Linked DNA regions of Homo sapiens: region 1 is linked to region 2. The links come from fine-mapping of genetic effects on gene expression. Tissue or cell type: whole blood. Region 2 holds a variant in brackets; the other region holds the start of a gene. All regions are shown on one strand. Distances are from middle to middle.

Evidence for each region. PIP is the estimated chance that this variant, and not a neighbour inherited with it, causes the effect.
Region 1: DPY19L1 starts here. The variant in region 2 is fine-mapped to the expression of DPY19L1 in whole blood (INTERVAL, PIP 0.98).

What each region holds. Positions count from the first base shown.
Region 1 is chr7:35,036,272-35,039,031 of GRCh38, reverse strand. It overlaps DPY19L1 (dpy-19 like C-mannosyltransferase 1), which reads left to right and starts at 1,547. Exons shown (of 22, transcript NM_001366673.1): 1 at 1,547-1,935. The coding sequence starts at 1,638. It overlaps LOC105375228 (a long non-coding RNA gene), which reads right to left and starts at 2,246. Exons shown (of 3, transcript XR_001745162.3): 1 at 2,111-2,246. RefSeq lists an enhancer at 708-937 and silencers at 988-1,657, 1,688-1,857.
Region 2 is chr7:34,945,548-34,948,307 of GRCh38, reverse strand. DPY19L1 (dpy-19 like C-mannosyltransferase 1) reads left to right here. Exons shown (of 22, transcript NM_001366673.1): 15 at 607-678; 16 at 2,592-2,641. The region is part of intron 2 of LOC102724723 (a long non-coding RNA gene); the gene reads right to left. Among named protein-coding and RNA genes, the nearest start is that of MIR548N, 6.1 kb to the right of the region's middle. The variant C/T (reference allele first, on the strand shown) is at 1,323.

The DNA.
Region 1 (2,760 bases), 91 kb before region 2:
TGAATTAGCTTTCTTTTAACTGAATACATTCAACATTAATCCCAGAGGTAGCATTGAGTTCAGCTGACACAATGTTTCAGAATCCAAGCCTTCTGCATCCTACTTTCAACCATTATTTTTTAAACCAGTGTATAAAAATAGTTGTTCTTTGCTCCAATAAAGACATTGGAAAATCCAAATTCATAAACTAGACAGGGTATGAGGGAGTATTAATTAGCATGGCAAACACCCTCCCTTTACAAAATAATCCACTGTCTCTTAAAAAGGCTAACAATGAACGAATGCTGGTATTAGTAAAGAAATCACTGGGCAAAGAAACAAAGAGCGAGAAAGCCACGTGAAGTCCCTGGAATTACAATAGAGATAAGCAGAACGATGGGCCTTGATTTACAACATTGGGACTTAAAGACAACTTTTTGGAACAAGCCACTGGGCACGGCCAGGAAAGGAACCTCCCAGTTGTAATCCATGCTGTTGTAAGACTGTGTGCAAAGAATGCAGGGGTGGAGGGAGAATTGGGATCTACCTGGGTTTCTAAATTTTCCCGGGTTTAATTTACTCGTGCATTCTGCTATGTAAAAGAAAACATATTTTCGACTAAAATCTCCTATCTTATCAACGCCAAGTTTTCCTGCTTCCTATTAAGCAACAAGGTTACAGCAAGTGTAACAAACTGAATGTACTTATTGATGATCTTTCCTGCTCCAGCCAATCCATCCTATCACCTTCAGCCTGGCTCCTACCCTGGTCTTCAGTTTACACTTGTGCCTCGTCCCTTATCAGCTCCCCATGAGATTCCAGGCTGCTATTTTAATACTCTGTTACTATCTTAAATCGGGTCGCACCCGTTCTTCTTGTCGGTGAGTGAGGGGCTGCGCTCCAAGTTGCGCGACCACACTGCGGGGAGTAAACGGAGACGGTGACTTGATTGCCACCCGCGCGCTTCACATCGGTGGGGCCGACCAGGCGCCCAGGGCGCACGCACAGCGCCCCTAAGTGGCCGCTCCGGGCGCCTTCTCCCTGCCCCGCCGCGTCTCGCCTGCGCGGGCTCCAAGCGCAGCCTTAACAGGCTCCGAAACTTGAATCAGCGCCCCGATCCCGAGAGGGCTCTTCCTTCGGCCCCATCACTCCCACAATGGAAGGGCGGCCGCCTCCGGAAGGCCGTCCGCCCCCGCGTCCTCGCACCGGCCGAGCCCCGCGCGGGCGCCGAAGAGGTGTGGGTAGCCGGGCGCCAGAGGGGTCGGGCCCCGCCTGCGCCGGAAGTCCGCGCGTGCGCGCTGGCCGGCCTGGAGCGCGCGTCCGGCGCAGAGGGGCGGCGGGGGCGGGGCCGCGGCCGCTCGCAGGGTGTCCCCGCCCCCGCCCCCCGGCGTTCCGCGGTCGCCGTGACAACCGGAGCGGCGGCAACGGCGGCGGGCTAGCAAGTCCGGCGCCGCCTCCCGGCGGTACTGCCAGCCAGGCAGCAGCCGCCCGGCCTCCACGATCTCCCCGCCTCCCGGCCCGCGGGGAGGGACGAGCCCGCCCTCCACCCTCCGCCCGCCCGCCCGCTGGAGAGTGAGCTGCGCCCAGCCGCCCAGCCAGCCCGCCGTTCTCTGGCCGCCGTCCGGGCGCGCGCAGCGAGCGGGCGCGACTATGCCAAGATGGTCCTGCAGGCGCGGAACAAGCACCGGGAGGCGGCTCCCAAGCCGCCCCAGCCACCCCGCGCCTCACAGTCGCCGCTGAGGGGGGCGTCGGACGTCGGCGCCGGGGAGCCGGGGCCCGAGCGCGCGCCCCTGTCCCCGGGGCGCAAGGGCGCCGCGGGCAGGAAGGGGCCCCGCGCCGAGCCCGGCGCGCCGCCCGCCGGGGGCGGCCTTGGGGGGCGCCTGGCCGCCCGGCTGCGCTGGGCGCTGGGCCTGCGGCGCGCGGGGCGCGGCCGGACCTGGACCACGCTCCTGTTAGGTGAGCAGCCCTAGCGCCGGCGCCGCCGGGACGCGGAACTTTGAGGCGCTGGCCCCCTCCCCTCCCCTCCCCTCCCCTTCCTTCCCCTCTCCTCCCGCTTCCGCCGCGCCGAGCCCCGCCAGCCGGACCAGCCAGTTTGCAGCCCTCTCCGACTTTTTCTCTGGGACATTCTTACCTTCTCCTCCCCGCAACTCCCTGGCTCAGCTCTCCTCGCACGCTTCCCACCCGCGCTCTGCCTGGGCTTTAAAAGAATGGCCCGGGGATCAACAGCTGCCCGGCCTGGCCGCGGGCAGCAGGTCTGCGCTAACGAGACTTGAGCGCTGCTGATTGGTACGACTGGCCGCCTTCCCGTTATCTCGGCCTCTGACCGCCAGGATGGTTTGCTTTGGCTTGGAAACGATTCCGTGGAGCTCAAAGCAAACGCACGTTCCATGTCGTAGAGAGTTGCTTAAACTTATAATTAAATTTTAGCGTACTTTTTTCTTCCTGGCCGCAAACGCCGCTGGTGGCACTTTATTTGTGATTCCCCTCGACACGTCACTTTCTAGGTTGTGTTGTGTTTGGGGCGCCCGAGCCTTAATCCTCCCTGCTGCCCTTGGAACCTTTGGTGAGGAGGGCTCTCCTCCCCTCCCTCTGCCATTTACCAAATGGATGATGTGTAATGATGTGCTGAAAAAAAAAAACAAAGTTGACGCATTCGTATGTTTCGGACTGACTTCAGGTTTCCTCTGTTTCCTGGTTGAATTTTGATAAGGCAAGTTGTAGCAGTTTGGATAACAGGCCTAATTTTTCTAAGTCAACTAGTGAAATGCTGTTACATTGCTT
Region 2 (2,760 bases):
ATAATTAACACACATAAAAGTAAAAAAAGTATAAAAGCAAAATTTTAACAGTGGTTTTTTGGGTGGAGAGATAATTGAGAGGTGCACAGGCTCACAATGTGTAGGGCTTTGTTATTAAACTTATTTCTATTTTTTTTCTGCTACTAAAGAAAATGTAAAAGCCTTTTGTTCCCCTCAAACATAGATCATTATTTTGTTTATGCGTGAGAAAGTGTGTGTGTGTGTGTTTCAAGGATAATATTTTTATCCCCCACAAAATATACAGGAAAAGCTTATTCCATTTAAGGAGCTTTACATACCTTAGATGAATATTAAGTTGGTCTCTCTAGTTAGATAAGTAGCATGCAAAAAGTGAGCAGTAATCTCTTCAGTGACATTTCACACTTACAGGTGTTTGGGTACTGTATTTTTAGTGTTTCAACTCAGCATTTTGGGGAAGTTCATTTCTATGGAAATGCACCTTCCTTTTTATGATGGCAGTCAGTGAGTAGATTGGTGAATGTTCATATTTCTCTACTTTCAGAAATTTACCTATTTCATTATTTGAAATGAAATTTTGTTTGGTTAAAATGTTTCCTTCTAACAAAACATCTCTTTGAATTTCAGACTCCACTGAGATACACAAAGACATTATTGCTTCCAGTTGTTCTTGTAGTGTTTGTTGCTATTGTTAGAAAGGTATGTCTATCACTTAAGAGCTCTTTCTTATAATAGAATATTTTCTTGTTTTTACATAGTAGTCGCATATACTTGGCCACATTTATCTGATACAACGTTTTGTATGGGCTTACTGTAACATATTCTATGTTTTCTTAATGATAGCTTTTGATAGACATTTATATAGCTTCAAAATATTCTATCTGCTAGCATAAAACAGACATCAGAAAAGGATGGCTCAAGTTCCGATAGTCATGTATTTTGGAAGGCATGATCAGAGACCATATTGACCCAGATACAACTTGCCTGTGTAAATTATTACTGGCTTTTACCTTTAATGTAATATTTCCCTAAAATATTTAAAATATACCTAAGTGATTTGTGCAGTGTGCAATAACTCCTGGATTGTGTTTATTATTAATCAGAAAGAAAAAACAGAGTATTTGCAATGTGTTGATGAACTAGATAAAATGTTTAGGTCCCCAAGTTGGCTTTGACGATAAAATTCAAAGCCCAGATATAAATAAGATCAAAGCAAGTGTGATATTCCCTCTCTTTTTTTCTTTAAGAATTGTGCACTCTGTAACCAAATGTGTCTTAAGAGAATGAACAGAAGTTAATCTGTGATGGAAAAAGAGACGACAGACCTTAAAAGTTTCCTGATA[C/T]GTGGCCAGTGATTTCTGTGTTAACACAATGTCATTTATTTGTAGAATATTCTGTATTATAACAATTGTTCATATTATATATTTGTACTCTGCTTTGTATAGAACATTTTCACATGAGTATTTAAATTGGTTATTCAACAGCCCTATGGGGTAGACAAATGTTATCTCCATTTTAACATACAGAACTGAAAGATCAAAGATGTTGTTAGGAGCCTCGCATCATGTCCACTTAAAAGCAAGGGAAGAGTGAGACTCGGGCTCTGCACCTTCCCCTATCGTTGGGCTATGTCTGGTATTCAGCTGTGTACTCCGACAGCACTTTTAATCTCTAATCAGTTAAGAGTCAGTTCCTGCTGTGTGCTAGGCTTTGTGTGTGCTTTGCACTTTTGTATAGTTTATGTGGGTTTGCACCTAGTGGGTACTCAAAAAATACTAAGCATTGGCCATCCAGAACATATGCAAAAGACAGCAACCTGAGTGGTGAGAGATGATGAAAACTATTAGCTAGGCTGTTTCGTTTAAAGAAGAAAAGATGTAGATGGAAAGCGGATAATTACTTTGAAATATGGTAAAAGCCTGTGCCTTGAAAATAAGGTTACACACAATCTGGCTCCTTAGAATCATGGCCAATTCCAGGAGGTATGACTTTTGACCAGAACTGATCTCGACTGATAAGGAAAGTGTTATAGATTCAAGCAGCAGCTGGTGGATTCTAAGGGCTGGATTACAGCCTGTCATCAGTGTTGTAGAGAATATTTGTACTGGAGATACGATTTTAGATTAGATGACCTCCTCATTATTGCTGAATATGAAAGCACAGTGACTGTGTTTTGAATGCTTCCAGCTGTGATTATCAACCTCTGAGCCAGCTCTCCAGTTTTCTGAGTGCACTGTTAAGAAGAGGTGTTGCCAACAACGTTGGCATGGTGGAAGCAGCGCTGAATGTGAATTTGAAGCCAGAAGATCTGGTTTCAAGACTGCAGTGCTTCTTAGTAGTTGTCTACCTACAGGGCAATCATTTAATCCATATGAACCTGTTGCTCATTTACAAAACGAGGATGATATAATCTACCCAACAGGGTTGTTGAATATTAGCTTTGATCAGATACTATACAAATATAAGATTATGTTGTTGTGATTATTATTTTCTGAGTTATCTCTATACTTATATTTTCATTAAAAGTTATTTTACAGTTTAGAAGATACTTTATTTAAAATATCATTTTTCCCAACACAGCTTTTCTAAAGTGTTTCAAAATCTATTTACAGATTATTAGTGATATGTGGGGTGTCTTAGCTAAACAACAGACACATGTAAGGTAAATATGCTATTAAGAATTTTATTACCTCCTCTGTTCATTTATTAAATAGATATTTACAGTGTATTAATTGTATACTTACATGTTGTGTACCTAATATTTGATAATTGATGTTTTTA